Linked DNA regions of Homo sapiens: region 1 is linked to region 2. The links come from fine-mapping of genetic effects on gene expression. A gene starts in region 2. The other region holds a variant in brackets. All regions are shown on one strand. Distances are from middle to middle. Region 1 overlaps THOC5 (THO complex subunit 5). Region 2 holds the start of THOC5 (THO complex subunit 5).

What was found. PIP is the estimated chance that this variant, and not a neighbour inherited with it, causes the effect.
Region 1: its variant is fine-mapped to the expression of THOC5 in monocytes (Fairfax 2014, PIP 0.95). The same link has a PIP of 0.9 or more in B cells, NK cells, monocytes after LPS and monocytes after interferon gamma.

Annotation. Positions count from the first base shown.
Region 1 is chr22:29,495,658-29,511,844 of GRCh38, reverse strand. THOC5 (THO complex subunit 5) reads left to right here. Exons shown (of 20, transcript NM_003678.5): 19 at 549-739; 20 at 3,325-5,966. The coding sequence ends at 3,388. Among named protein-coding and RNA genes, the nearest start is that of NEFH, 24 kb to the right of the region's middle. The variant C/T (reference allele first, on the strand shown) is at 3,480.
Region 2 is chr22:29,545,717-29,561,903 of GRCh38, reverse strand. THOC5 (THO complex subunit 5) reads left to right here and starts at 8,147. Exons shown (of 20, transcript NM_003678.5): 1 at 8,147-8,233; 2 at 12,746-12,852. The coding sequence starts at 12,757. It overlaps NIPSNAP1 (nipsnap homolog 1), which reads left to right. Exons shown (of 10, transcript NM_003634.4): 5 at 42-112; 6 at 258-398; 7 at 702-733; 8 at 1,076-1,170; 9 at 2,951-3,034; 10 at 5,905-7,096. The coding sequence ends at 5,969. RefSeq lists enhancers at 7,777-7,846, 7,230-7,927, 9,325-10,024 and a silencer at 8,247-8,436.

The sequences.
Region 1 (16,187 bases), 50 kb after region 2:
GACCTACTTGCCTACCTTGGGGTCCACAGGTTTCCCCACTTAGAGAGTAAGGAGAAATACCTACCTTGAAAGGTTATTGGCTTGGGCTCCTATAAAAAATGTGAATAAGCTCTGAAGCATTATAGAAGCACTGGAATGACATGAGGAATGACATCACTGCAGTTGTTAATCAGCATTGCAGCTGTTAATCAGCATTGCAGTTGTTAATCAGCATTGCTGCTACTAAGTCAAACATGCCATGGAACACGTTTTTAACCAACATCTTCTGACTTAGGTCTTATTTTGAGACTGCTTCCCTGCACACCTCTGTTTTCCTGGCTGTGGGCATATGAGGCAGGGAAAGCTATGGGTCAGAATCAGGAAGACCTCATTGTCTTGATGAGGGGGCCTGAGGACAAGCCAGTCTAGCTTGATCTGATGGCCTAGCCCCTGGCCCAGCCCCTGCAGAGGCATCAGCGCTCGGGCCCATCCAGGGACGGAAGCCTGGCCAGTGTGGTCCCCCACATGCAGGAAGGTAGTGCTGAGATGCTGGCTTTCCTATCACACAGGCCATGGAGGGCGAAGTCAATGTGTGCTACAAGGAGCTGTGTGGCCCTTGGCCCAGCCACCAGCTGTTGACCAACCAGCTGCAGCGGCTGTGTGTGCTGCTGGATGTTTACCTGGAGACCGAGAGCCATGACGACAGTGTGGAGGGGCCCAAGGAATTTCCCCAGGAGAAGATGTGTCTGCGGCTCTTCAGGTGAGGAGAGGGTTGGGGCTCTGGTGACTTCTCATGGTGATGTGGGACAGAGATCAGAGCCAGATTTTCTGGGGAGAGCTTGCTTCTTCCTTCCTGAAACTTCCCCTGCAGCCGATGCCTATCACTCTGGTCCACCTGTTTTTCACTAACACCTCCTGAAGGTGTTAGTGCCAGGTCTGAGCCAAGAGGATTTGGCTGAACTTTATTTTCTATACTTTCTGTGGAAAACAATAGAGTTTGTTTGCTTTTTAGTGTCCAAATAAGCTTTTTAAACTGTGTGCATCCTCGCCTGTCCCCAGGGAGTCTGCTGTGGTCTTTCTAGGGTACTGTCCTGTCAGTGAGAATCACAGCTTAGGCAGTCAGGTGGCACAGAAGGAACCAGCTTCAAAGTAAAACAGATAGGAGTGCAGATCTCTGTTTTGCTGCTGACCTTAGAAGAGTCAGTTCTGCTTAGCTCTGAGCCCTCCTCCAGCTTTTTGTTTGTTTGTTTCCTTTTCTTTGAGACACGGTCTTACTCTCTTGCCCAGACTGGAGTGCAGCAGCATGATCATAGCCCACTGTAGCCTTGCAGTCTTGACCTCTGGAGCTCAAACGATCCTTCCGCCTCAGCCTCCCTAGTAGCTGGGACCACAGACATGCACCGCCACACGCAACTAATTTTTAAATTTTTTTGTAGAGATGGGGTTTCACCATATTAGCCAGGCTGGTCTCAAACTCCTAGGCTCAAGTGATCAGCTTGTCTCAGCCTCCCAAAGTGCTGGGATTACAGGCATGAGCCATTGTGCCTGACCCCTATTTTCTAAAGACAGAAATGGTGAAAGTAATACCTTCTAGCTCATGATGAAGCAGAAGTAATTCATATAAAGTCCTGGCACAGGACTGGGACTCGGAAAATGCCAGCAGTTCCTGACAGCTTGGTACTCAAGAGTGTCTGGGCTCATGGCACTTCCAGCTACTTTTCCTTTCTCTTTCATTTTGGGTCCTTTATTTCCCTTTCAGCCTCTAACTCATGTTCTTTTAAGAGTCAGTTTCAAAACTGCAGATTTCACTGCTCAGGCATCCCTTCCCTTCTGCATGAGGTTGGCGGGGAGCAGTGTTTGGGAAGGAAGAAGAGTGATAATCTGTTTCTAATCAGAACATCCCCCCTTGTTCCCTGTCAGTCTACACAGTGCCTTATCTCTCCCTCACCTTGTTCTCTGTTCCCTGTCAGTCTAAGCAGTGCCTTACCTCTCCCTCACCTTGTTCTCTGTTCCCTGTCAGTCTAAGCAGTGCCTTACCTCTCCCTCACCTTGTTCTCTGTTCCCTGTCAGTCTAAGCAGTGCCTTACCTCTCCCTCACCTTGTTCTCTGTTCCCTGTCAGTCTAAGCAGTGCCTTACCTCTCCCTTACCTTGTTCTCTGTTCCCTGTCAGTCTAAGCAGTGCCTTACCTCTCCCTCACCTTGTTCTCTGTTCCCTGTCAGTCTAAACAGTGCCTTACCTCTCCCTCACCTTGTTCTCAGACAGCCAGTTCTAGCCCCTAGAAGCAGTCCCAGCATCCTTTCACCTCATCTGACACCTCCACTGGCCTGGTTCATTATGTTATCTCATAATAACCAGTTCCAGCTCTGAGTGGCTGCTGGGAGGTGGAGCTGGTGGCCAGATGCTGGCACCTTCTAGGACTTGCTCTCTCCCTAGAGGGCTTGTGTGAGACCTCTGCTCTTCTCACCTGCCCAGCCCATTCTAGCACATTGCCAGGGTGGGAATTCTCACATGGCCAGCATTGATTTCCTCTTCTCCAGTGGTTCCCAAAGGACCCATTTCTTTTTCTTTTTTCTTTTTTTTTTTTTTTTTGAGACAGAGTCTCACTCTGTCGCCCAGGCTGGAGTGTAGTAGCATGATCTCGGCTCACTGCAACCTCCACCTCCCGGCCAAAGGACCCCATTCTTGAAGGGCTTTGTTGTGTCTCCAGGCTGAGCTCCTCTGTCAGCATTCTGGGAAGGTGCTCCTTCAGTGACTCAGATCCAGTTAACTCTATGGCCGGTAGATGTGAGAGGCAAGGCTCTCCGGCCAGGATGCAGAGTGCTGGCATGGGCAGCAAGAGACCTGAGGCCAGGAGTTCCACCAGCCTGGCCAACATGGCAAAACCTAAACTAAACCTCAACCTAAACCCGGGCGTGGTGGTGCATGCCTGTAATCCCAGCTACTTGGGAGGCTGAGGTACAAAAATCCTTTGAACCCGGGAAGCAGGGGTTGCAGTGAGCCGAGATCACGCCACTGCACTCCAGCCTGGGCGACACAGAGACTCCGTCTCAAAAAATAAAAAAAGGAACAATCCTAAAAAGTGAGGGTGCCTAAAGCTATGTCCCCGAAGTGCCACTGTCAGTGAGGGCCTTTCCAAGTTTGTGTTCACTCATTTGCAAGCACAAAAAGACATTTTTACAAAAATAGTATCGCACCTTATATGTTGTTCTGCCGTATGCTTTTCTCAACAACATTCTGTGTCATGTAACTCTGCCTCTTCTTTTTCCCTTGTGTGAATGAACCATAATTTATTTTATCAGCCTAGAAGGTGTGTTATTAACAACTCCGTTCTCCTATTTCTCTAGGGGTCCTAGCAGGATGAAGCCATTTAAATACAACCATCCTCAGGGATTCTTCAGCCATCGCTGATCTCCCGCGCAGACCGTTGTTTCCCCCAAGGCCTCACCCTGAGCACTGGGCTTCTGCTTTCTGCTCTGGCCCACATGTGACTCTTGATATT[C/T]TCCAAAGACACCAGCCAATTAAAAAGCGTCACCTGACCAGTGGCCTTTGTCTGTGGTTCCTGGCAAGGTGGCTTTGCAGTCTGGAAGGGCAGGTGGGAGCTGTGACACAGTGTGAAAAAGCATTTGTAGAGAGACTTTTTCTCAGCAGCCAATAAAAGCAGAGTGGAAAAAGATTCCAATTCTGCAGAGAGATGCTCACCTCTTGTCTACGCACACCCTATTTGTGCTTTGCGGGGTGAGGTCCTCATGATCTTGTATTTATTATCCCAAGTTCCTGCTGTTAAGAGGTGGTAGGAGAAGCCAAAGGCAGCAGAGCACAAAAAGCAAAACTCTTCCCTCCCCACCCGCTCTTCCCATTAGTCCTGTCAGGGTTGCCGATGGACAAATTGTCTCTGATCGTTGGATGTTATAAATGTCTGACAGTGCAGTGCAAACAGAAGACAAACTCAGTTGATCCTTGAACAACTCAGGGGTTAGGGGCACCAACACCCCCTGCCCTGCACAGTTGAAAAATCCGTGTATAACTTTTGACTCCCTAAAAACTTAACTAATAGCCTGCTGTTGACCAGTAGTATGCTATTAGTAGTTACTTACTGCTAACATAGTCAGTACATATTTTCAGTATATATTTTGTATCTTATACACTGTATTCTTACAATACAGTAAACTAGAGAAAAGAAAATGTTATAAGGAAAGTCACAAGGGGGCCTGAGTGCAGTGGCTCACGTCTGTAATCCCAGCACTTTGGGAGGCCAAGGCGGGTGGATCACTTGAGGTCAGGAGTTTGAGACCAGCCTGGCCGACATGGTGAAACCCTGTCTCTACTAAAAACATGGAAATTAGCCAAGCGTGGTGGCGCATGCCTGTAGTCCCAGTTACTCAGGAGGCTGAGGCAGAATTACTTGAACCCATGAGGCAGAGGTTGCAGTAAGCCAAGATCACGCTCCTGCGCTCCGGCTTGGGCGAGAGTGAGACTCCGTCTCAAAAATAAATAAATAAGAAAGCCATAAGGAAGAAAATATATATCTACTATTAAGTAGAAGTGGATCACCATAAAGGTCTTCACATACTGTCTCAGGGTTGAATAGTCTAAGGAAGAGGAGGGGTTGGTCTTGGTGTCTCAGGGATGGCAGAGGCAGAAAAAGTGGGGGAGGTGGAGGGGGAGGCAGGCACCACTGTTATTTTTATTGAACAAAATCTGTGCAGGGACTCATGACTGTAATCCTAGTACTTTGGAAAGCTAAGGCGGGAGGATCCCTTGAGGCCAGGAGTTCAGGTCCAGCCTGGGCAACGTAGTGAGAGACCCTGTATCTACAAAAAATTTAAAAATCAGCCAGGTGTGGTGGTATGCACCAATAGTCCCAGTTACTCAGAAGGCTGAGGTGGGCGGATGACTGGAGTCCAGGAGTTCAAGGTAGCAGTGAGCTATTCATCGTGCCTGTACTGTACTCCAGCCTGGGAAACAATGCGAGTCCCTATCTCTAAAAAATTTTAAAAAAAGAAATCTGCATATAATAGACCCACAGAGTCCAAACTATTGTTCAGAGATCAACTGTACTTCACAGAGAGTAATTCTAAGTCTTACAGGATTTCATGGAGATGGCGAGAGTGGTGTTGGAGAATCAATCACATACAGAGATACAGGACAGTGAGACCAGGTAACATTTGAGGAGAATATTTTTTTTTTATTGAGACAGGGTCTTGCTCTGTTGTCCAGGCTGGAGTGCAGTGGCACGAACACAGCTCACTGCCGCCTCAACCTCTCCTGGGTTCAAGTGATCCTCCTGCCTCAGCCTCCCAAGTAGCTGGGACCACAGGTGTGTGCCACCATTTCTGGCTAATTTTTAAATTTTTTGTAGAGGCGGGATCCCACTATTTTTCCCAGGCTGGTCTCAAACTCCTGGGCTCAAATGATCCTCCCACCTCGGCCTCCCAAAGTGCTAGGATTATAGGCATGAGCCACCACACCCGGCCTGAGTAGAGTCTTTAAGGTAATGACAAAAGTGCCTCAAAATATAATTATTTGATTAAGAGAAGTCTTGGGAAGATAGGTAACAACCTTTAAAATGTTCATAAAATTACATCCTTTGTAATACTCCTGCAAGTCAAAGTAAAGGATGGCATAGACTATTCTTGGACAGTTTTGTCAAAAAGTGTATCTTGACCCCACCATCAGTACTCCATTCTTCATTTTAAAAAATAAGATGGGCTGGGCACAGTGGCTTACGCCTTTAATATCAGTACTTTGGGAGGCTGGTGGGCGGATCACCTGAGATCAGGAGTTCAAGACCAGCCTGGCCAACATGGTGAAACCCCGTCTCTACTAAAAATACAAAAATTAGCTGGGCATGGTGGTGCGCGCCTGTAATCCCAGCCACTCGGGAGGCTGAGGCAGGAGAATTGCTTGAATCCCCGAGGCGGAGGTTGCACTGAGCCGAGATGGTGCCACTGCACCATCTGGACAACAGAGCAAGACTCCGTCTTGGAAAAAAAAAAAAAGATGTAGAAATGTAAAAATATTTGAGAATTATTACATAGTTGCAGATATAGTTTGCTAACTCCAAGAGGAAACACATTTTATTTTTTGTGATTGTCCTGATGAAACTTTATCCCCCCACAACATGCTGTTAAGCTTGGTTCCCATCATAAGCATATTCCCCCTAAGTGGACTTTTACTGATTTTCCATGGATAATGCAGACCTCCAGTATAAAAGCTATTCCTCCAGGTCTCTCTGCCGACCACTGAGTATCCCAGGGATAAGGATTTTAAGAGTAAGAGCTAAGTAATAAATTCCTGCCCCTAGCAGGGCCGTTCATTTTACGGATGAAAACCTGATCCTTGCTGGGCGTGGTGGCTCATGCCTATAATCCAAGCCATTCAGAAGGCTGAGGCAGGAGGATTGCTTGAGCCCAGGAGTTCAAGACCAGCCTGTGTAATATAGTGAGTCCCCATTCAGAAAAAGAAAAGAAACCTGAGCCTAGCAAGGAGAAGAGAATGGTACCTTTGGTGGCTGTTAAATCACCACCGCTACCCTCAGTCCACATCAGTCCTTTGAATTCCAAAGGCAGGTACTCTCTAGCTCAGAGGTCCTCGAACTTCAGCCTGTGTGGGAGTCACCCATCCTGGCACCTGATTAGAAACACAGACACCCAAGTCCCATTCCAAATATTCTGACTCAATTGACCTGAGATGCACCAAGGAAGTGTATTTTTTTATTTTTATTTTTTGAGCCTTGCTCTGTCGCCCAGGCTAGAGTGCAAGGGCGCAATCTCAGCTCACTGCAACCTCTACCTCATCGGTTTAAGTGATTCTCCTGCCTTAGCCTCCCAAGAGCTGGGATTATAAGTGTGCGGCTAATTTTGTATTTTTAGTAGAGACAGGGTTTCACCATGTTGGCCAGGCTGGTCTCAAACTCCTGACCTCGGGTGATCCACCCACCTTGGCCTCCCAAAGTGCTGGGATTACAGGTGCGTGCCACCACGCCCAGCCAGGAAGTGTATTTTTAACAAGGATCCCTGGGTATAGGCTGCCCTGGTCTCTTTATGGAAGGCACTGTACTTTCTTCCCTTCCCTTCCCTTTCTTCATTTTTCTTGATGACTCTACAGGGCCAAATTCTCTGGGCAGCTGTCTTTCTTCTGTCTTCTGCACTTGGGTAGCAGCATGAGCATCTGGGTGCTTTTTTTTTTTTTTTTTTTTTTTTTTTGAGACGGAGTCTCGCTCTGTTGCCCAGGCTGGAGTGCAGTGGCATGATCTCGGCTCACTGCAACCTCAGCCTCCCGGGTTCACGCAATTCTCCTGCCTCAGCCTTCTGAGTAGCTGGGATTACAGGCGCCCACCACCATGCTAATTTTTTATATTTTTAGTAGAGATGGGGTTTCACCATGTTAACCAGGATGGTCTCGATCTCCTGACCTCGTGATCTGCCCGCTTCGGCCTCCCAAAGTGCTAGGATTACAGGCGTGAGCCACCGCGCCTGGCTAAGTATTTCTCTCCACATAGCGAGATCTCCTTGTCTTTTCCCTGACCTACTTGCCTGGGACTTTGTCCCAGGCGGCATCCCCCTGGTCTGTCCACCTTCAGGCCTTGTGTCTCACCGCCTGTGCTGAATAAGATTGAAATAGAGCCTAAAAATAGTTTAATGGCCCCTGCATTGCAGCCTGCACTTCTCTGTTCTTGGCTGGAAGGCAGCCAAACTGACTCAGCACAAAAGCTCATCTCCAGAAGCCGGGACAAGATTTCAAAGAGGGCTTGTGAGGGCTGGGAAGAGGCTTTGCTTCTTAGACAGGGGATATCAGAGCCTGTCACCCTCCAGAAGAGATTTTCCCTTTCCAGAGAAGCAGACTGAACAAAAGAATCCCTTGGCTTTAAGGAGGATTTTAAAACAAGCGAGAAGCCCAGGTCAATCCCTCCCCTGTGAGCTACTTAGCCATTCATGCCAAGGGTGGGCAGATTAGGGGGAAAGGGACTGGCTTGGGAGGACCTAGAAGCTTCCTCCTCAGCTGGAATTGTCCACGGACTTTTGGCAGATTATACTCTGGGGCATATCGCAGACCGCAGCCCATCTGTCGCTCTCTTGTACCTGGGACTCAGCCTGTGTTCCTTGCTTTTTTTTTTTTCCCCTTTACAATTTTTTTAAAACATTTTTTTTTCTTTTGTAGAGACAAGGTCTTGCTATGTTGCCCAGGCTAGTCTTGAACTCCTGGCCTCAAGCAATCTTCCCACCTCGGCCTCCCAAAGTGCTAGGATTACAGGCGTGAACCCACCATGTCAGGCCTGTTCCTTGCCTTTTTAAAGCTGCCGTCCACATTCCTGATTTATTGGTATCTTCTAGTTTCTCCCTTATTTTCTTCCTAGCTTATCCCTTACTATTTTCTCTGCAAATAACTCCACAGACTCTTTTCATAAACTTAAGGGTGTTCTTGCTGATCACTCCGCAAAGCTAAGCAAAACTCTATCCCTAGGAAGGAGCAGGGCTGCCAGACTTCCAAAGGAACTTTGTCCCTGTCGGTGTAGCCGACTCTGTCCTTTCTATGGCGTTCAGCAGTGTCTCTGATGAGAATAGGCATTAAGCATCTATTTTGGGTCAGGCCCTGTGCTAATCACACTTTTACATTCACTGTCCTATTTAAATGAAACTTAGTGTATAAGTCTTTTGCCTCCTTGGTTAAATTTATCCCTAGGTATTTTATTATTTTTGATACTATTATAAATAGAATTATTTTCTTAATTTCTTTTTCTGATTGTTCATTGTTGGTGAGTAGACATACAATTGTTCTTTGTGTGTTGACTTTGTCCCCTGCTGCTTTACTGAATTCATTTATTAACTCTAGTAATTAAAAAAAACTTTTCTGCCAGTCTGGGCAATATAGTGAAGCCCTGTCTATACAAAAATAAGATTTAAAAATTAGCCAGGCATGGTGGCGCATAATTGTAGTCCCAGCTACTCAGAAGGCAAAGGCAGGAGGATCACATGAGCCCAGAAGTTGGAAGCTACAGTGAGCTATGATCACACAGGTGCACTCCAGTCTTGGGGACAAAGTGAGACCTTGGTCTCTAAATAAATAAATAAATAAAAGGGTTTACTGTGGATTATTTGGGATTTTCTATATATGTGATAATGTCATCTGCAAATAGAGATCGTTCTATTTCTTCCTTTCCAATTTGGATGCCTTTTCTTTTTCTTGCCTAATTTCTCTGGCTAGGACTGCCAGTACTGTGTTGAATACAACTGTGAAAGTGGGCATCTCTGTCTTGTTCCTGATCTTAGGGGAAAAGCTTTCAGCTTTTCACCATTGGTTTTGTGTTTTTTGTTTTAGATACAGGGTTTTGCTCTGTCACCCAGGCTGGAGTGCAGTGGTGCAATCAAAGCTCACTGCAGCCTTCAACTCCAGGGCTCAAGCAATTCTCCCACCTCAGCCTCCCATGTACCTGGAAATACAGGTGTGAGCCATCGTGCCCAGCTCCCCTTCATTCTTTAAGGCAAGGTAGTGTACTACATTAATTGATTTTCTTTCCTTTTTTTTTTTTTGAGACGGATTCTCGCTCTTTCACCCAGGCTGGACTCAGTGGCGCTATCTCGGCTCACTGCACGCTCCGCCTCCCGGGTTCACTCCATTCTCCTGCCTCAGCCTCCCGAGTAGCTGGGACTACAGACGCCCGCTACCATGCCCGGCTAATTTTTTGTATTTTCAATAGAGACAGTTTCACCGTGTTAGCCAGGATGGTCTCGATCTCCTGACCTCATGATCCACCTGCCTCAGCCTCCCAAAGTGCTGGGATTACAGGCGTGAGCCACTGCGCCCAGCCGATTTTCTTTTCTTTTCTTTTCTTTTTTTTTTTTTGAGACAGAGTCTCACTCTGTCGCCCAAGCTGGAGTGCAGTGGTGCAGTCTTGGCTCACTGCAACCTCTGCCTCCCAGGTTCAAGCGATTCTCCTGCTTCAGCCTCCCGAGTAACTGGGACTAGAAGTACTCGCCCCACCATGCCTGGCTAATTTTTGCTTGCTATTTATTTATTTATTTTATTTATTTATTTTTTTTGAGATGAAGTCTCCCACTGTCGCCAGGCTGGATTGTGCAGTGGCACAAACTCAGCTCACTGCAACCTCCGTCTCCCGGGTTCAAGCGATTCTCCTGCCTCAGCCCCCCGAGTAGCTGGGATTACAGGCGCGTGCCACCACACCCAGCTAATTTTTGTATTTTTAGTAGAGATGGGGTTTCCCCATGTTGGCCAGGATGGTCTTGACCTTGTGATCCGCCCACCTTGGCCTCCCAAAGTGCTGGGATTACAGGCATGAGCCACTGCGCCCAGACTGAATTTTTTTTTTTTTTTTTTGAGACAGTTTCACTCTTGTTGTCCAGGCTAGAGTGTAATGGAGTGACCTTGGCTCACTGCAACCTCCGCCTCCTAGGTTCAAGCGATTCTTCTGCCTCAGCCTCCCAAGTAGTTGGGATTACAGGCACGTGCCACCATGCCTGGCTAATTTTTGTATTTTTAGTAGAGACGGGGTTTCACCGTGTTGGCCAGGCTGGTCTTGATCTCCTGACCTTGTGATCCACCTGCCTTGGCCTCCCGAAGTTCTGGGATTACAAGTGTGAGCCACCCCACTTGGCCAGATTTTCTCATTTTTCTTGAGTCAGTTTCAGTAGTTTTTATATTTCTAGGAATTTATGCATTTAATCTAAATTATTGAATTAGTGGACATACGGTTGTTCACAGTATTGCCTTATAATTCCTTTTATTTCTGTAAGGTTGGCATTAATGCCTTCTCTTTTATTCTTGATTTTAGTAATTTGAGTCTTTTCTTCTTTTATCTTAGTCAGTCTAGCTAAAGGTTTGTGAATTTTGTTGGTCTTTTTAGGACCTTTTTTTTTTTTTTTTTTTGAGACAGAGTTTCACTCTTGTCATCCAGGCTGGAGTGCAATCTTGGCTCACTGCAACCTCCGCCTCCCGGGTTCAAACAATTCTCCTGCCTCAGCCTCCCAAGTAGCTGGGATTACAGGCGCTCGCCACCATGCCTGGCTAATTTTTGTATTTTTAGTAGAGATGGAGTTTCACCATGTTGGCCAGGCTGGTCTCGAACTCCTGACCTCAGGTGATCCGCCCTCCTCAGCCTCCCAAAGTGCTGGGATTATAGGTGTGAGCCACTGCGTCCGGCCAAGACCTAACTTTTAATTTCATTGATTTTCTGTGTCATTTTTATATTCTCTATTTCATTAATTTCCACTCTAATCCTTCTTTGGGTTTACTTTGCTCTTCTTTTTTCAATGTCTTAAGGTAGAAATTTAGGTTATTGATTTGAGATCATTCTTCTTTTCCTTTATTTATTTATTTAGAGACAGGGTCTTGCTCTGTCACCCAGGCTGGAGTGCAGTGGTGTGATTGTAGCTCACTGCAGTCTTGAACTCCTGGGCTCTGGCAACCCTCCTGCCTTGGCCTCCCAAGTAGCTGGGACTACAGGTACACGCCACTGTGCCTGGTTAATTTTTTAATTTTTATTTTGTAGTGACGGGATCTCACTATGTTCCCCAAGCTGGTCAGGAACTCCTGGGCTCAAGTGATCCTCCAGCCTTGGCCTCCCAAAGTGCTGGGATTACAGGCGTCAGCCACTGTGCCTGGCCTCATTCTTCTTTTTAAATGTAGACATTTACAACTTTAAATTTCCCTCTAAGCATTGTTTTACTTGCATACCGTAAGTTTTCATATGTTATATCTTCATTTTCGTTCATCTAAAAATATTCTGATTTCCCCTCTGATTTCATCTTTGACCCATTGGTTATTTAGGAGTGTTTGTTTTTCACATATTTGTGACTTTCCCAGATTAGTTATTAACTTTTACTCTAGTGTGATCAGAGAACGTACTTTGTACGATTTCAATTCTTTTAAATTTATGGAAGCTATTTTTTTTTAATTGAGGCTTTTTTTTTTAAAGATGGAGTCTTGCTCTGTTGCTCAGGCTGGAGTGCAGTGGCACCATCTCGGCTCACTGCAACCTCCGCCGCCCGACTTCAAGTGATTCTCCTGCCTCAACCTCCTGAGTAGCTGGGACCTGGTACCGGTGTGCATTACCACATCTGGCTAATTTATAAATTTTTTGGTAGAGACAGGGTTTCACCATGTTTGTGAGGCTGGTCTTGAACTCCTGACCTCAAGTGATCCACCTGCCTCAGCCTCCCAAGTGCTAGGATTATAGGCATGAACCACTGTGCCCAGCCCTAATTAAGGCTTTTTTATTTTTATTTATTTTTAATTCATTTATTATTATTACTTTTTGAGATGGAGTCTCACTCTGTTGCCGAGGCTGGAGTGCAGTGGCGTGATCTCCACTCATTGCAACTTCTGCCTCCCAGGTTCAAGTGATTCTCCTGCCTCAGCCTCCCAGGTAACTGGGATTACAGGTGTGTGCCACCATGCCTGGCTAAATTTTGTATTTTTGGTAGAGACAGGGTTTCTCCATGTTTGCCAGGCTGGTCTTGAACTCCTGACCTCAGGTGATCCACCTGCCTCAGCCTCCCAAAGTGCTGGGATTACAGGTGTGAATATATATATGTATATATGATGGTATACTACTCAACCATAAAAAGGAATGTATTAACAGCATTTGCAGTGACCTGGATGAAACTGGAGACTATTATTCTAAGGGAAGTAACTCAGGAATGGAAAACTAAACATTGTATGTTCTCACTGATATGTGGGAGCTAAGCTATGAGGACGCAAAGGCGTAAGAATGATACAATGGACTTTGGGGACTTGGAAGGAAGAGTGGGAGGGGGGTGAGGGATAAAAGACTCCAAATATGGTGCAATGTACACTGCTTGGGTGATGGGTGCACCAAAGTCTCCCAAATCACCACTAAAAAATGTACTCATGTAACCAAACACCACCTGTTCCCCAATAACTTATGGAAAAATAAAGTAATAAAAATTAAAAACAAACTAGTTTTATTTTTTGCTTTAACATGTTTACTAATATAGATGTAATTTATTTAGCCAGTCTCCTATTAGTGTATAATCAGTATATTTTCTGTTGTTCCAAATTATAACCAAAACTGAGGTACATAGATTTCATATTTGAATATTTCTGTATATACCTAAGTATTTATTTAGGATACATTCTTCAAAGTGGCATACCTTGGTTAAAGACTATCTAAGCTTGAGGCCAGGCACAGTGGCTCAAGCCTGTAATCCTAGCACTTTGGGAGGCTGAGGTGGGTGGATCACGAGGTCAGGAGTTCAAGACCAGCCTGGCCAAGATGGTGAAACCCCATCTCTACTAAAAATACAAAAATTAGCTGGGCACAGTGGCAGGTGCCTGTAATCCCAGCTACTTGGGAGGCTGAGGCAGGAGAATTGCCTGAACCCAGGCGGTGGAGGTTGCAGTGAGCCAAGATCACACTACTGTGCTCCAGGCTGGGCAATAGAGTGAGATTCTATCTCAAAAAAAAAAAAAAAAGACTAAGGTTTTAAGGCTTTTGATATATTTCGTTAGATTGTCTTCCTGGAAGATTTTCATTCCAAGCATTAGCTCCAGAAAATTCAGGTTTCTCTACATAGCTGCTAACACTGGGTATTATCATTCTTTTGGATCTTCTGCTACCTGCACTCCATCCACTGTGGACATTTATCATTACCAATGTCCAACATTCACTCCTTTTTCTCCTGCTAAGAGTACTTCTATTTTCCTTTGGGAAACTCCCCTCTCAAACTCTCAATTTCAGACTGAGGGGTCTGACATATTCCCTAGCTCCAGGGATGAGCAGGTGAACTCTGTCTAGCTCATCAGTGTCTCATGCATTGGCTCAAGGAGGATCATATGGCCCTACCAGCCCAGTGAGAACCAAACCCTGGACTTTTACTGGAATATTGAACAAGAGTTCTTTTTTCTCCCCTGAGTTTGCTAACCTGGTAGGATATAAGCCCAAAGCTTCTGGAGACCACATGGAGATGTTCTGCCTGACGTTAAAGCTGACACAAAAGGAAGCAGCTGAGAGATGGAGAAATGAGTGACAGCTTCCTGGGGAACATCATTTGAGAGTTCCCCTGGATCCAGCCATTCCTGAAGCAATTCAAGCTTCTCTTTTTTTTTTTTTTTTTTTTTTTTTTTTTTTGAGACAGTGTCTCACTCTGTCCCCCAGGCTGGAGTGCAGTGGCACAATCTCAGCTTGCTGCAACCTCCACCTCCCAGGTTCAAGTGATTCTCCTGCCTCAGCCTCCTAAGTAACTGGGATTACAGTCATGCACCATCACACTCAGCTAATTTTTGTATTTTAAGTAGAGACGGGGTTTCACTGTGCTGGCCAGGGTGGTCTCGAACTCCTGACCTCAGGCGATCCATCCACCTCGGCCTCCCAAAGTGCTAGGATTACAGGCATGAGCCACCACGCCCAGCTACGATTCAACCTTCTTGAACTCCTTGGGGTTATGTAAGCTAATATATTTATCAGCAGCAGCAGCATTAGTAAGTATTTTGCACAAACTAGTTTAATTCTGTTTTGGTCACTTGCAACAGAAATAATGCTGATGATGCTGGGTGCTGTGGTTCACACCTGTAATCCCAGCACTTTGGGAGGCTGAGGTTAGTGGATTGCTTGAGCTCAGGAGATTGAGACCTGCCTGGACAACATGGCGAAACTACGTCTCTACCAAAATATAAAAAATTAGCCAAGCGTGATGGCACGCAACTGTGGTCCCATCCCAACTACTCGGGAGGCTGAGGCAGGAGAATCACTTGAACCTGAGAGGTGTAGGTTGCAGTGAGCCAAGATGGTGCCACTGCACTCCAACCTGGGTGACAGAGCAAGACTCTATCTCGATAAATGAATGAATGAATGAATGTAGGTTTTTCTAAGTAAGGGTCACCCAGGGAAGCTTTATTTTATTTTATTTGAGACAGAGTCTCCCTCTGTTGCCCAGGGTGGAGTGCAGTGGCTTCATCATAGTTTGCTGCAGCTTCAAACTCTCAGACTCAGGCTATCCTCCCATCTTAGCCTCTGGGACTACAGGCACAGGCCACCATGGCCAGCTAATTTTTTTTTTTTTTTTTTTTAGTAGAGATGAGGTCTCGCTATGTTGCCCGGGCTGGTCTCAAACTCCTGGGCTCAAGCATTCTGCCCACCTCAGTCTCCCAAAGTGCTGGGATTATAGGCATGAGCCACCACATCCAGCTGAGATGACTATTTTTGATCAGTCACACATCCCTTTGCCCCTTTCCCCATCTTTCCCATTTATTTAGCTTACTTTCTGGTATAATCCATATTCATTGCTTTTATTACTATTAGGTAAATATTGTTACCTGTTGAATTGGCTAGTATATAATAATTACAACTTCTTCTTACACACAATTTTTCACTTCTCCTGGAGTTAATGTTTTCCTCCCTTTTATTACTTGTTTTGTCTTTGAAATTGACTAAATATTCCCGCAGTCTCCAGTAGTTCAATAAAAGACTTTCTTTTCTTTTTTTTTTTTTCCAGATGGAGTCTTGCTCTGTTGCCCAGGCTGGAGTGCAGTGGTGCAATCTTGGCTCACTGAAACCTCCCTGTCCCGGGTTCAAGTGATTCTCCCTGCCTCAGCCTCCCAAGCAGCTGGGACTACAGGTGCGCACCACCATGCCTGGCTAATTTTTGTATTTTTAGTAGAGACAGGGTTTCACCATGTTGGCCAGGCTGGTCTCGAACTCCTGACCTCAGGTGATTCACCTGCCTCAGCCTCCCAAAGTGTTGGGATTACAGGCATGAGCCACTGCACCTGGCCCAGTAAAAGACTTTCAATTCAATTTTACCCACGGTCATTCATGTCAAATAATTTGTCAGGTTTTTTTTTTTTTTTTTTTTTTGTGCCTCAGAACTCCCCCTCTTCCCCCAGACTCACTCCAATCTGGATGGAGGCTACACAGCTATTGTCCATCAATTTCTCTTTGTCATCAACCTAAGGAGTCCCTTCTCTCATCTTTGTGTAGCCCCTGTTTTCTGTATTCCCAGAGTTTCTATTTCCTGGCTTATGCTCACTTTTTGTTGAAGCATGTCCTCCAGTAATTTATGGAAAGTAATTTTTTGAGACTTCGTAAGCCTGAAATTGTCCTTTTTCTACCCTCATGCTTGATTTATCAGTATAGACTTCTAAGCAGTGTCCATCATTGCTGCTGAGAAGTTTGGGGCCATTTTGATTCTGTTTTTTTTTTTTTTTTTTTTTTTTTTTGAGACGGAGTCTC
Region 2 (16,187 bases):
GTCCCAGCAGCTCACTGACCTATACCTCTCACCCCCAACAGTGCACCTGTGGCGATTCTCAGGTGGCTACCCAGCCCTCATGGACTGCATGAACAAGCTCAAAAACAATAAGGTATGTTAGTGTCCACTCAGCACACCTCTCTGGATGTGGGATGCAGCCCAGCCCTGTTCTGGGGACTACTCTGCTACCCCATGAGGCACACTGTCAGGATGGAGCGCACTTCCTGGTAGCCATGCCTTTACCACCATGCCCACAGGAGTACCTGGAGTTCCGAAGGGAGCGGAGCCAGATGCTGCTGTCCAGGAGAAACCAGCTGCTCCTCGAGTTCAGCTTCTGGAATGAGCCACAGCCCAGAATGGGTCCCAACATCTATGAGCTGAGGACATACAAGCTCAAGGTGCCTCCCTCCGACAGACCCCCTCCTGCCCCCCAATTTCCCTGCTGCAATGCTGCTTTGCAGCTGCCCCAACACCTAGACTGGGGCTTCTGGCTTCTCCCTCCCTATGGGCTCAGAGCAGAGTTGTATACACATGTGTGCAAACATGCACACCAGGTGTGTGTCAGGGCCTGCGAATGAGGCCAAATGGCCGCTGCAGCTTGGGAGGTGGGGAGACAGGGCAGTTTCCCTTCCTTGCCAAGCTGTGATGCTATGAATCTGAGGTGGGGGCTCATTCCCATCATCCCTTTGGTTCTCTTTCAGCCAGGAACCATGATCGAGTGGGGGAACAACTGGTAAGTGGCAGCACCAAGACTGGGGTTGGGGGAGGCGTACCCTGCTCACCTGCCCCACCAAGGCCCCTGGTGGGCCACCTTTTCCAGGGCCATATCACAGGGAACTCTTTACCTTCTGCCCCTCATGGATCTGGGAGAAGGATCCAGCCAGGAGGTGAGGATCTCCTAGAAGGTTGTGACCCCTCCGTTGGTAGAACACCCCGCCATCAGTCCTTTCTCTCAGCATCCCGGAGGACCGTGGGTTCCACCTAGGCCCCTCCTGTGAAGTGTGGCCAAGGAATCAGCCTCAGTACCCTCTGCACCAGCCCTGGCTTCTGCCCCATATTATTGTGCCTTCTCCAGGGCTCGGGCCATCAAGTACCGGCAGGAGAACCAGGAGGCAGTGGGCGGCTTCTTCTCACAGATAGGAGAGCTCTACGTGGTGCACCATCTCTGGGGTAGGTTGAGGACCTTCCAGGAGCCTTTTGTTAGTTCTCTTTCTCTGTCATCACTCTCTGTAGCCAATGGGGTTGTATTAGTGTCCTCATAGAACTTAATGTTCTAGCAGGAGACACTATCTTAGATGTAAAGTCACAAAAAGATCAATTTCAGATTACAAATAATATTTATAGAAAATAGGCAAGGAGTCTGGGAGCGGTGGCTCAAGTGTATAATCACGACACTTTGGGAGGCCGAGGTGGGCAAATCACAAGGTCAAGAGATCGAGACCATCCTGGCCAATATGGTGAAACCCCATCTCTACTAAAAATACAAAAATTAGCTGGGCGTGGTGGCGCATGCCTGTAGTCCCAGATACTCGGGAGGATGAGGCAGGAGAATCAGTTGAACCCGGGAGGTGGAGGTTGCAGTGAGCTGAGATCACGCCATTGCACTCCAGCCTGGCAACAGAGCGAGACTCCGTCTCAAAAAAAAAGAAGAAAAAAAAAAAAGGCAGGGAGAGATGATGGTGAAAAACATAGGGGATCTACATTGGTCTAGGTAGACAAATAATGCCTCTCTGAGGAAGTAAAATGTAAGCTGAGAGCTAAAGGATGAGAAGGAGCCAGCTGTGAATTGCTAGGCAAAAGCATTCCAAGTAGACAGAGCAGCACATGCAAAGGCCCTGTGGTGGGGAAAGGCCTTCGGGGTTTTGAGGTGTGGCAAGGAGGCCAGTGTGGAGTGAGTAGGGAAGAATGTGGGGAGATGGAACAGGAGAGGGGGAATGAGTTGGGATTTATTGTAAATGCAATGAGAGACTATTTGTTTCAAATAGCAGTGACACGACCTGATTTTTGTTCTAGTATGATTTCTCTGGCTGCTGTCTGCTTTGTTAAGAGTGCTTGGTAGGCGAGCAAGAGAGAAAGCAGGGCTTCAGGAAGCCATTACTCTAGTTCAGGCAGGAGGGGATGGGGCAGTGGGATGCTGAGAAGTCCACAGAAGATTTGTTAGTCTAGAGGTGGAACCAACAGGACTTGTGGATGAATTGTCTGTGTGGGGCAAGAGAAGGAGAAGGGCATTCCAGAAGAGCTCCCAGGCTCGTGCTTGAGCTGCTGTGTGTCATCTCCTGAGTCTGGGAGGTCTAGGGAAGGAGCAAGTCAGTGGGGTCAGGAGCGTAATTTTGGCCCTTGGAATTGTTACTTTTTTTTTTTTTCTTTGAGACACAGTCTTGCTCTGTCACCTAGGCTGGAGTGCAGTAGTGTGATCTCAGCTCACTGCAACCTCCGCTTCCCAAGTTCAAGTGATTCTCGTGCCTCACGCTCCTGAGTAGCTGGGATTACAGGCATGCAGTACCATGCCCAACTAATTTTTCTATTTTTAGTACAGAGTTTCGCTATGTTGGCCAGACTGGCCTCGAACTCCTGGCCTCAAGCAGTCCACCAGCCTCGGCCTCCCAAAGTGCTGGGATTATAGGCATGAGCCACCGCACCTAGCCGGAAGTGTTAACACTAAAAATGCTGACACACCAAAGTAGAGATGTCAAGTAGGCAGTAGATGGATATAGGAGTCTGGAGCCCTTGGGAGTGTTTGCGACTAGAAATATAAATGTAGGCAATATTAACATATGTACTGATTGGATGGATGATTAAAGCAGACAGTGTTTGCTAATAGTCTGAGGGAGGCATCTAGGGAGGAGGAGACAGCAGTGCAGGGTTTAGGGGACAGTGGGAAGAGGGCCCTGTGCTGGGTAAGGGATCCAGTCCTCTGTGCCTGAGGAATGAGCCTGTGCCTTTCTCACAGCCTATAAAGACCTGCAGTCTCGGGAGGAGACTCGAAACGCTGCCTGGAGGAAGAGAGGCTGGGATGAAAATGTCTACTATACAGGTGAGTGAAGCCTTTGGAGGTCTTCTGCTGAGAACCCTGTCTGAGGATGGAATCCTCTCTGCAAGGAGATCTAGTCTTTCTTGATTACCTCCAGTGATGGGGAACTCACTTTTAAGACAATGAGTTAATGGGTTTCTATCCAAGTGGCACACTCCATAGGATACCAGCAGGCCTAGGTGAGTACTCTAGGGGATGATAACATAGCCAGGGCCACGCCTCTGCCTAGGAGATGTGGATTAGCAAACGCCCATTGTGACCTTGGGCACGGTTCTTTACCTCGCTGAGGCTGTTCCCTCGTCTGTAAGATAGTGATGGTGATAGTGCTTCTGTCAGAGGGCTATAACGGAAGATTCTACAAACTATTTTATTATTTTATATTTTATTTTATTTTATTTATTTTTGAGACACAGTCTCACTCTGTCACCCAGGGTGGAGTGCAGTGGCATGATCTTGGCTCACTGTAGCCTCCGCCTCCCAGGTTCAAGCCATTCTCCTGCCTCAGCCTCCCGAGTAGCTGGGATTACAGGCGTGTGTCACCATGTCCAGCTAATTTTGTATTTTTAGTAGAGACGGGGTTTTATCATGTTGGCCAAGCTGGTCTCGAACTCCTGACCTCAGGTGATCCGCCTGCCTCGGCCTCCCAAAGTGCTGTGATTACAGGCATGAGCCACCACATCTGGCCCACAAACTCATTTATGAAAAGTGCTTTCTCCAGTGTCTGTCACAAAGGAAGCATGCAGGAAATGTTTTTGAATAAGGTTTTTGTTTTTGTAGAGATGCAGTCTTACTATGTCACCCAGGCAGGTCTCAAACTCCTGGGCTCAAGCAGTCCTCCCACCTCAGCCTTCCAAAGTGCTGGGATCATAGGCATGAGCTACTGTGCCCAGCCTTGAACAAGTTTTTTGCTCAAGGTGTTTGCCACTTTGCTAGGAACCTGAAACCACCTAGAGTCAGTGGGTGTTAATTAAGCCCTCACTGTGTGCCGGGAACTGTGGTAGGTAGGTGGTTGAGGGGCACATAAATGAACAAGAGCCTGTCCTTGCCATTGAGAAGTTTACAGTGATCACTTACCAGGTGGTATGAGGGAGAATGTGTCTGCTGAAGGAGTTAGCAGGAGCCTTGCTATTCAGTGTGGTCCCAGCTGGGTATGGTGGCTCACAACTGAAATCCTAGTACTTTGGGAGGCCAAGGCAAGAGGATCACTTGAGGTCAGTAGTTTAAGACCAGCCTGGGCAACATAGGGAGACCCCATCTCTACAAAACATTTTTTAAAAATTAGCAGGACGTGGTGTTTCCCATCTGTAGTCCCAGCTACTTGGAAGGCTGAGGTGGGAGGATCACTTGATCCCAGGAGTTTGAGGCTGCAGGGAGCCATGATTGTGCCATTGCACTCCAGCCTGGGCAACAGTGAGACCCTATCTCAAAAATAAAAAATAAAAATAATAAAAAACAAGACAAGCACAGTGGCTTACACCTGTAATCCCAGCACTATGAAGTTGAGGTATGTGGATCAATTGAGGCCAGGAGTTGGAGACCAGTCTCGGCAACATGGTGAAACCTCGTCTCTACTAAAAATAAAAAAAATTAGCCAGGCATGGTAACTCAAGCCTGTAATCCCAGCTACTCGGGAGGCTGAGGCACAAGAATCACTTGAACCCAGGAGGCGGAGGTTGCATTGAGCCGAGAACCTGCCACTGCACTCCAGCCTGGAAGACAGAGTGAGACCCTGTCTCAAAAAAAACAAAAAACAAAAAAAATCAAGTGTGGTCCCAACTGACAGTATTGGCATCCCCTGGGAGCTTGTTAAGAATGACAAATCTCGGCTGGGCGCAGTGGCTCACGCCTGTCATCCCAGCACTTTGGGAGGCTGAGGTGGGCAGATCACCTGAGGTCAGGAGTTCAAGACCAGCCTGACCAACATGGAGAAACCCTGTCTCTACTAAAAATACAAAATTAGCCAGGCATAGTGGCACATGCCTGTAATCCCAGCTACTCGGGAGGCTGAGGCAGGAGAATCGCTTGAAACCGGAAGGCAGAGGTTGCAGTGAGCCGAGATAGTGCCATTGCACTCCAGCCTGGGCAACAAGAGTGAAATTCCATCTCAAACAAAGAAACAAACAAGAATAACAAATCGCAGGCTTCCTGCAACCTACCAAATCAGAATCTGCACATTAACAAGAACTGCCAAGTGATTTGTATGCACATTAAAGTTTGAAAAGCTCTGAGCTGGAGGAAAGAGTCTAACCTCCTGGATGACCTGGAGCTGACCTTCTCTAGGCTGCACCCTCTCTATCTGTAAAACGAGGCAGTTGGTCTAAATCAGTGTTTTTCTTTTCTTTTTTTTTGAGACGGAGTTTTGCTCTTGTTGCCCAGGCTGGAGTGCAATGGCCTGATCTCGGCTCACAGCAACCTCTGACTCCCGGGTTCAAGCGATTCTCCTGCCTCAGCCTCCCGAGTAGCTAGGATTACAAGCATGTGCCACTACGCCCGGCTAATTTTGTATTTTTAGTAGAGAGAGGGTTTCTCCATGTTGGTCAGGCTAGTCTCGAACTCCTGACCTCAGGTGATCCGCCTGTCTTGGCCTCTCTAAGTGCTGGGATTATAGGCACAAGCCACCATGCCTGGCCAACAGATAACTATTAAAATTTAAGAAAATGTTATTCTCATCACCACCAAAGTCCTGTCTTATCCCATAATTTGAGGGATCTGGTGCTCTTCATGGGCCCTTCCACGAGGGCAATGGGACATTCCTGTCGCAGCATCTGGGGCCTCCTCCTGCCCACTCAAAGGCCAGCATGTGTGGGTGGGGCCAGGGGAGGTTGTTGGCTTGCTTGAGCCCCCTGTGTGACCTCTGCCTTCTCTCTCCGCAGTCCCCCTGGTGCGACACATGGAGTCTAGGATCATGATCCCCTTGAAGATCTCGCCTCTGCAGTGATGCTGCCTACACCTCCACCTCCTTCCCCTTCTCCCTCAGGCAACCCCGACAGACAGTGGCACTCCTGGTCCTGCTGTCTTGGTTTTGTCTTGGCTCTGGGAGGACTCTGAGGGGCAGTGCTCAGTTCAGACAAGGGGGAACTGAAGGCTGACAAGTTCTGAGGATTACAGCTCTGCCCAGGCCCTTTCTACTTTCCCTGCCTGCCTCCCTCCCCCTGCTAGAAGTAGTTTCTGATTTCCCTGAATGAAAGATAGTGATCTTTTAGGCCTTCATTTATCTTCTAAAATTCCTCATCTCAAGGCCACCAGTCCCCAGTTATCACCCTTGGAAATCCTCTGTTTAGCTTAGTTGCACAAAAGGTAGTATGTCCAGTGGCTAGAGGTGGGGTGGGAAGAGAGGAGGCCAGGCCAGGCCCTCAGGAATTCCCTGGTTTCCACTGGGCCACCCACTTGCTGGACAGTCTGAGCCAAGTCCCTCCTGCTGGAGAAAAGCCTGGAACTGCCAAAACAAAAAAACAAATACAAACAAACCTCGTCACCACGGTCAGGAGGAGGTTCAGACATTCTGCCCAGAGGGGCTGGGGAAAGGGATGGGAGCCAGGAAAGATTTAGGGGCAGGAGACAGACACGTAACAGGAACTCGGAAGGTAGAACTTAGAATTCAGAACTTGGGTTTCAATTGTAGAATTTGGAATCTGGAATACAGAATTGGGAAGAAGAACAGAGATGACAAAAGACCACTTGAAGAGAGGTTCCTAATACTAGACAGATGGAGAGTGGCTTGGCTGTTTCCCCCTGCATATTGGGGTTGAAAACTTAAATGTGTAGTTCCAGTCCTTCTATGCAGAGTCTCTCCTGCCCTCCCTCCTTCCTGCAGGCAAATATACAAGCTAGACCCTGTTCCCTCACCCTGTATCCTGTCTCCCCTAATTGACATTCTATCAGCCCAACCCTCATTCTGCAGGGCCACCTGGTGTGTGGAGGTGGCGGGAGGGGTCAGTGACTCTGGGGGTCTCCTCAGTGACCCCCATACCTCATCATGAACCCTTGGGTAGCTTGATTCTGCCTACCATCCAGGAAAACTTGTGCTGGAATTGCTGATGGAAACAATTAAATATTTACTATAAATCAGTGTCTTTTCTTCATCTGCAAGGAACTTTAGCAGGTGCCTGAGGCAGGGCACAGTAGAGCTGGTGGGCTTAGTCCCACATGGCAGATCTACCCTCCTGGAGGGTACTGTGTTCTTGAGCTATTCTCAACAGTCAGTACTGGTTGGGTGCAGTGGCTCACGCCTGTAATCCCAGCATTTTGGAAGTCCGAGGTGGGCAGATCACTTGAGTGAGGTCAGGAGTTCAAGACCAGCCTGGGCAACATGGTGAAACCCTGTCTCTACTAAAAATACAAAAATTAGCTGGGCATGGTGGTGCATGCCTGTAATCCCAGCTACTTAGGAGGCTGAGGCAGGAGAATCCTTTAAACCCTGGAGTCGGAGTTTGCAGTGAGCGGGGATTGCGCCACTGCACTTCAGCCTGGGTGAGAGAGCAAAACTCTGTCTCAAATAAAAATAAAAATAAAAAAGAGCCAGTATTTTCCTCCTTGCTCCTGGGAAGGAGAAGGAACTGGCCCCGTACAACCAGGGATTCAGGACACGTGTTACTAGCTCCAGATGAGGATTTACACGAAAAAATCCTGGGCCTTGTTTGTACAGTTCATGCCAGGGGTAGGAAATACCTGAAGCTTTCAAATACTGCGTTAGAGTTGTGACTCTGTCCTGGGCAAGTCAGGCCTAAAATGGAGAAACTGGTGATGCACTCCTCAAAAAGCCAAGTGTAAAATGAGGTTAATGCCCTCCCTGACTTGTTGCCTTCACTGGCGTGGCATATTATGGTAAAAATAATAATTAAGAAGTAAGGTTATGCAGGCAAATCCTCTAGCGCCGAAATCTTCCCCGCCGCGCTACCAGGTTCTTTCGTGTTATCTTGGACATAACACAACATTAATTCAACTACTCGGTGGAGCGCCCACTAGCTGCTGGACACTCTCTTAGGCCCTGGGCACAGTGAACGAGAAGCATGTGTCTTTGTTTTTACAGTCTCACCACGCCACCACCTCCCTCGGGGGCCTCCGCGCTGAGCTTCCGGCCTCTACGCCTCGCTTCCGGTCGGCCGCCCCTTCCTTACTTCCGGTTCTCTATGGTGCGCGGGCAAGCTTTGCTCCGCCTCCGGCAGTGGCTTACTCCCGGTGCCAGGTTCTTGGAGCTGTGAGGTGAGGAGGGGACAAGGGCAGTGGGGCTGGGAGATGGGGCGGGGCTGGGCGCTCCGGGACTGAGGTGCTGATCGCCCAAAGGGCGCCCCTGGGCTGGGGTCTGACCCGGCTTCTCCTCCCTCACTACCCGCGGTCCCCGGCCTCTCGGCGCTGCGCTGTTACCTCATCCGAAAAGTGTTCGCTGCAGCATCCTCAGGCTTCACGTTGGAGCCTCTTGATTGTGGTAATGTAGCCTGATGGGGGTGGGGGTGGTGGTGATGGTAACAGCTCACATATATCGTGCTCTTCGGTGTGCCAGGCACTCTACTGTGTTGCCAAAGTCAGGATTTCCCACACTTAAGCCTTTCAGGTCCGGTCTTTGTAGGCTTTGCCAGATCAACTTACCACCTCTACTACCGTTTATTAAAAATTTGTTTGTTTGTTTGTTTTAGTATTTATTGATAATTCTTGGGTGTTTCTCGCAGAGGGGATTTGGCAGGGTCATAGGACAATAGTGGAGGGAAGGTCAGCAGATAAACAAGTGAACAAAGGTCTCTGGTTTTCCTAGGCAGAGGACCCTGCAGCCTTCCGCAGTGTTTGTGTCCCTGGGTACTTGAGATTAGGGAGTGGTGATGACTCTTAAGGAGCATGCTGCCTTCAAGCTTCTGTTTAACAAAGCACATCTTGCCCCGCCCTTAATCCATTTAACCCTGAGTGGACACAGCACATGTTTCAGAGAGCACGGGGTTGGGGGTAAGGCTATAGACCAACAGCATCCCAAGGCAGAAGAATTTCTCTCAGTACAGAACAAAATGGAGTCTCCCTTGTCCACCTCTCTCCACACAGACACAGCAACAATCCGATTTCTCTATCTTTTCCCCACATTTCCCCCCTCTCTACTAGACAAAACCGCCATCGTCATCATGGCCCGTTCTCAATGAGCTGTTGGGTACACCTCCCAGACGGGGTGGCGGCCAGGCAGAGGGGCTCCTCACCTCCCAGAAGGGGCGGCCGGGCAGAGGCGCCCCCCACCTCCCGGACGGGGTGGCGGCCAGGCGGAGGCGCCCCCCTACCCCCGACCCGACGGGGCGGCTGGCCGGGCTGGGGCTGGCCCCCACCTCCCCCCCGGACGGGGCGGCTGGCCGGGCGGGGGCTGCCCCCCACCTCCCGGACGGGGCGGCTGCTGGGTGGAGGGGCTCCTCACCTCTCAGACGGGGCAGCCGGGCAGAGACGCTCCTCACCTCCCAGACGGGGTCGCAGCCGGGCAGAGGTGCTCCTCACATCCCAGACGGGGCGGCGGGGCAGAGGTGCTCCCCACATCTGAGATGATGGGCGGCCGGGCAGAGACACTCCTCACTTCCTAGACGGGATGGGGTCCGGGAAGAGGTGCTCCTCACTTCCCAGACTGGGCAGCCGGGCAGAGGGGCTCCTCACATCCCAGATGATGGGCAGCCGGGCAGAGACGCTCCTCACTTCCCAGACGGGGTGGCGGCCGGGCAGAGGCTGCAATCTTGGCACTTTGGGAGGCCAAGGCAGGCGGCTGGGAGGTGGAGGTTGTAGCGAGCCGAGATCACGCCACTGCACTCCAGCCTGGGCACCATTGAGCACTGAGTGAACGAGACTCCGTCTGCAATCCTGGCACCTCGGGAGGCCGAGGCTGGCCGATCACTCGCGGTCAGGAGCTGGAGACCAGCCTGGCCAACACAGCGAAACCCCGTCTCCACCAAAAAATACGAAAACCAGTCAGGCGTGGCGGCGCGCGCCTGCAATTGCAGGCACTCGGCAGGCTGAGGCAGGAGAATCAGGCAGAGAGGTTCCAGTGAGCCGAGATGGCCGCAGTACAGTCCAGCTTCGGCTCGGCATCAGAGGGAGACCGTGGAGAGAGGGGGAGGGGGGAGGGGGAGGGGTTTACTAAAAATTTTTAATCCAGTCCAAATTTTTTTTTTGCAACGGGATCTCTGTTGTCAAGACTGAGTGCAGTGGCGCGATCATAGCTCACTGCAGCCTGGAACTTCTGGGCTCAAGCCATCCTCCCACCCTAGCCTCCAGAGTAGCTTGGGACCACAGGTGTGCACCGCCATACTAGGCTAATTTTAAAATGTTTTCTAAAGATGGGGTCTCGCTCTGTTGCCCACTCTGGTCTTGAACGCCTGGGCTCAAGCGATTCTCTCACCTCTGCTTGCCTTGGTTTCCCAAAGTGTTGGGATTACAGGTGTGAGCCATGGTGTTGGGCCCAGTCACTTTTTTTGTTGTTGTTGAGACTGAATCTCGCTCTGTTGCCCAGGCTGGAGTGAAGTGGCTGCGATCTCGGCTCATTGCAACCTCTGCTCCCTGGGTTCAAGTGATTCTCCTACCTCAGCCTCCTGAGTAGCTGAGATTACAGGCGCCCGCCTCCACTCCCGGCTAATTTTTGTATTTGTGGTACTGACGGGGTTTCACCATGTTGGCCAGGCTGGTCTCAAACTCCTGACCTCAGGTGATCCACCCGCCTCAGCCTCCCAAAGTGCTGGGATTACAGGCCTGAGCCACTGCGCCCAGCCAAGTCACTTTTTAAACTCAAATTTACTTTGAGAGAAAACTTGAAATCTCTCCACCAGAAATGGAAAGCTGCTTTCACTTGTTTTATGTAGAAGGTAAAAATTAATATAGTTAATATAATGCAACTAGATCATTGTTAACAAACTCTGGCTAGATTTTGTTGTTTAAGGCTGTGGGATAGAGTTCTTTTGTTACAAAGGAACATTGGCATTCATAGATGTTAAAGACAAACTAGGGAACTGAGATGTTCTCCTTGAAGCAATCAGAAGTTTCAAAATAAGAATTGAAAAGGGATTAACTTTCTCCTTAGGTGTTCAGCATTATTTAAGATCACCTATGCATCATCTGAAGCCACAGTCCCAGGTCATCTTCATCACCTTCCCCAGTGGAATGCCTCCTGTGTTAAAGCCCACAACAACCCCTGTGGTAGGGACTGTTATTCTCATTTGATTTGTGAGGAATCAGACCCAGAGAAAAGTGAAGTGACTCGTCCGGGGACTCATAGCCATGAAAGAGTAGAATGGAGATTCCAGTTCAGGGCTCTCTGACTTTTACCGTGACAAACTATTGGCTCCCTCAAGTCGGGGATGTGGAAGCTTCAGTGAGTGATGATTGTGCCACTGCACTCCAGCTTGGGTGACAGAGCAAGAGGGATTAGGGTAAAGGGGACAGTGCTGCCCACCTCAGGAGGCTGTGGTGAGGCAACAAGGGAGGATGCTTTGTGACTGTAGAGCCCCATGAAATGTAGGTTCTATACTTTAAATTCTAGGATCAACCTGGGAGTCAATGGCATCACTAGATGAGAGGCTGGCAGGACTAGGAGGCATAAAAGTGTAGTTAAGAGCACCAGTATGGCATTGATTGGATAGATCCGGATTTTGGCCTACTAGTCATGTGACTCGCAATTACTTGCAAGTAATTCCCCTTGCGAGCCTCAGTTTTGTCATCTGTGAAATGGTGGTAGTTCTTAGCTGAAAAGTTTGTTATAAGGAGCAAATGAGAACATACCCATAAAGTAGTTAGATCAAGGCCCAGCACACAGTGATCACAGTAGTATTGGGAGTGTCTTTAAATGCCAGACCGAGGAGTTTGGATACTAATTTATGGAGCACTCTGCCAGGCTCAGGGGGAAGAGGGTAGAGCTCACAATCTAGGTGGGAAGACAGGTAAATGATTCATAGAGATAAATTCCCTAATAGTGTACCCAAAGTAGCCAAAAGAGGGCTTTGGGGAGACCTGACAGGCTTCCTAGAGCAGATGAGCATTGCTTAGTCTTGAAGGATATAGGGAGGAAAAGGAAGATCTTTGCAAGCAGGGGAAAAGACATGGAGTGTTTGGGGAACTGGGATTGCAGGGTGCAGTTGCAGCTAGGAGCAGAGGTTGGGGACAGTGGGAAGGTCGGTAGGAATAGGAATGCAAGAAATGAAGTTGGGAAGGTAGGTTGGGGACAAACCATCAAGGGTCTTTATGACAAGTCAGGGAATATGGATATTCAGTGCATTATGAAGAGCCAGCAAAGGTTTTGAAACAGGAGAGGCATTAATTAGGTCGGTCTTTTTTAAGAAAGAGAATTTAGACAGTATTGTTGGGCAAGACTGTTAGAGTAGTCCTGGAGAGGAATGTGGAGGGCCTGGCCTAGGGTGTTGAGATGGAGACACACATGGTGCCTGGATAGCTGGGTGAACACTTGAATGCAGGTCTCCTCTATGGAGAGTGTGGAGCAGGATGTGGGTGGAGGCAGGGCAGGGAGAGGTTGAAGTAGATGATTCCGAGGTCAGTGGGAGTGGGTGGTGATGCCTTTTTAAAAGAGAAGGTGGAGTTTGTTTTGGACAGGCTGAGAGATGCTTCCCTGTTGTATTACAGAGGGTTAAATTGAGGCTTTGAGGGGTTAAATGACTTTCCTTGAGTTACCAAGTCTGTAAGTGGCCAGAACTGCTAGTTTGACTTCAGTGTTATGACTCCAGAAGAATCTCAAAAACTTTCTCCTCTTAACAGGAGGAACAACCATGTCATCAGAATCGAGCAAAAAACGGAAGCCCAAAGTGATCCGAAGCGATGGAGCCCCAGCTGAAGGAAAGCGGAATCGATCTGACACCGAGCAGGTGAGATCAGTCAGGGTTGCCATGCTGCTGAGAAATTACATCTCATGGCCAAGCACCTGGCTGTGTGTTTGCAGCAGCTCGGGGTCGCATCTACCAGGTACAACTTTTTGGTGGCTTCCACTTGACCAGGTGACTGGGATTCCTGTTTCTTCACTAAAGCTGAGTGTCCACATCTGGTTTAGCTGCAGCATCTCCAAAACCAACAAGCCTGTATTAGACATGATTATACCTACCCAGAGAATGTATTCCAGTATGATATGTGTCTCCAGTTTTCCTGATGGTCAGAAGAAGGTAGTCCATCTGCAGCATGGCACTGGAGCTTCAGGAATCCCTCGGTGTGCTGCTGAGACAATACCAGAACCATGTGCCCACAGAACCTCTTTTGTGGCCTGAGAGCTCATGTGGTCGTCAGGTTCTTTTCTTCTTTTTGTCTGTTTCTCTGTCCTTGAATCTGTCAACTTCATTTGTGACTTAGCTATTTAAAAAAAATTTTTTTTGAGACAGGGTCTCACTGTGTCGCTCACGTCGGAGTACAGTGGCACGATTTCTGCTCACTGCAGACTGCATTTCCTGGGCTCAAGCGATCCTCCCACCTCAGTCTCCCAAGTAGCTGGGACCACAGCTGCACGCCACCATGCCCAGCTAATTTTGTATTTTTTGTAGATATGAGGTTTTGCCACGTTACCCAGGTTGGTCTCAAACTCCTGAGCTTAAGTGATCTACCTGCCTTGGCCTCCCAAGGTATTGGGATTATAGGTGTGAGCCACCCCGCACCCAGCTGGAATTCCTCTCTATAGGAGACTGTCATGCAGCCATTTTGATTGAGATCTGTATTTACTGGGATGGTCATATGGTTTGGCCGTGTCCCCACCCAAATCTCAACTTGAATTGTATCTCCCAGAATTGCCATGTGTTGTGGGAGGGACCTACGAGGAGGTAATTGAATCATGGGGGCCGGTCTTTCCCATGCTGTTCTTATTATAGTGAATAAGCCTCATGAGATCTGATGCGCTCATCAGGGGTTTCTGCTTTTGCTTCCTCCTCATTTTTCTTTTGCTGCCGCCATGTAAAAAGTGCCTTTCACCTCCTGCCATGTTCCTGAGGCCTCACCAGCCATGTGGAACTGTTAAGTCCAATTAAACCTCTTTTTGTTCCCAATTTCAGGTATGTCTTTATCAGCAGCGTGAAAATAAACTAATCCAGTAAATTCATACCAGTAGAGTGGGGGTTTGCTGAAAAGATACCTGAAAATGTGGAAGCGACTTTGGCACTGGGTAACAGGCAGAGGTTGGAACAGTTTGGAGGGCTTGGAAGAAGACAGGAAAATGTGGGAAAGTTTGGAACCTCCTAGAGACTTGTTGAATGGCTTTGACAAAAATGCTGATAATGGGCCGGACATGGTGGCTCACGCCTGTAATCCCAGCACTTTGGGAGTCTGAGGCAGGTGGATCACGAGGTCAGGAGTTAAAGACCAGCCTGGCTAAGATGGTGAAACCCTGTCTCTACTAAACATACGAACAAATTAGCCAGGCGTGGTGGCGGTAGCCTGTAATCCCAGCTACTCGGGAGGCTGAGGCAGAGAATTGCTTGAACCCAGGAGGCAGAGGTTGCAGTGAGCCAAGATCATGCCACTGCACTCCAGCCTGGGTGACAGAGTGAGACTCCATCTCAAAGAAAAAAAAAAAAGTTGATAATGATATGAACAATAAGGTCCAGCCTGAGGTGGTCTCAGATGGAGATGAGGAACTTATTGGAAACTGCAGCAAAGGTGACTCTTGTGTTTTAGCAAAGAGACTGAAAACATTTGCCCCTGCCTTAGAGATTTGTGGAACTTTGAACTTGAGAGAGAGGATTTAGGGTATCTGGTGGAGGAAATTTCTAAGTAGCAAACCATTCAAAAGGTGACAGGGCCATGTGCAGTGGCTCACGCCTATAATCCTAGCACTTTGGGAGGCCGAGGCAGGTGAACCACTTGAGGTCAGGAGTTTGAGACCAGCCTGGCCAACATGGCAAAACCCTATCTCTACTAAAAATACAATAAAAATTAGCCAGACATGGTGGTGGGCCCCTGTAATCCCAGCTACTTGGGAGGCTGAGGCAGGAGAATCGCTTGAACCCGGGAGGCAGAAGTTGCAGTGAGCTGAGATTGCGCCATTGCACTCCAGCCTGAGCAACAAGAGCAAGACCTTGTCTCAAAAAAAAAAAAAAGAAGTGACTTGGGTACTGTTAAAAGCATTCCATTTTAAAAGGAAAACAGAGCATAAAAGTTTGGAAAATTTGTAGCCTGATGACACAGTAGAAAAGAAAAACCCGGCTGGGCACGGTGGCTCACGCTTGTAATCCCAGCACTTTGGGAGGCCGAGCTGGGTGGATCACTTGAGGTCAGAAGTTCGAGACCAGCCTGGGCAACATGGTGAAACCCCATCTCTACTAAAAATACAGAAATTAGCCGGGCCTGGTGGCAGGTGCCTGTAATCCCAGCTACCCACTGTAATCTCCAAGCCTGAGGCAGGAGAATTGCCTGAACCTGGGAGGCAGAGGTTGCAGTGAACTGAGATCATGCCACTGCACTCCAGCCTGGGCGACAAGACCGAGACTCTGTCTCAAAAAATAAAAATAAAAAATAAAAAAAGGAAAGAAAAACCCATTTTTTGCGGAGAAATTCAAGTTGGTTGCAGAAATTTGCATAAGTAGCAAGGAGCCTAATGTTAATCCCCGTGGGGGATTAACACCATGGGGAAAGCGTCTCCAGGCCATGTCAGAGACCTCACGGCAGCCCCTTCCCTCACAGGCCCAGAGGCCCAGGAGGAAAAAGTGGTTTTCTGGGCCAGGCCCAGGGTCCCTGTGCTATATGCAGCCTAGGGACTTGGTGCCCTGTGTCCCAGCCAGTCCAGGCATGGCTGAAAGGGGCCAATCTAGAGCTTGGCCTGTGGCTCAGAGGGTGGAAGCCCCAAGCTTTGGCAGCTTCCAAGTGGTGTTAAGCCTGTGGGTGCACAGAAGTCAAGAATTGAGGTTTGGGAACCTCCGCCTGGATTTCAGAAGATGTACGGAAACACCTGGATGCCCAGGCAAAAGTTTGCTGCTGGCGCGCTCATGGAGAACCCCTGCTAGGGCAGTGTGGAAGGGAAATGTGGGGTCAGAGCCCCCACACAGTCCCTACTGAGGCACTGCCTAGTAGAGCTGTGAGAAGAGGGCCACCGTCCCTTCAGACCCTAGAATGGTAGATCCACGAACGGCTTGCACCATGCACCTGAAAAAGCTGCAGACACTCAATGCCAGCCCATGAAAGCAGCCAGGAGGGAGGGAGACTGTACCCTGCAAAGCCACAGGGGTGG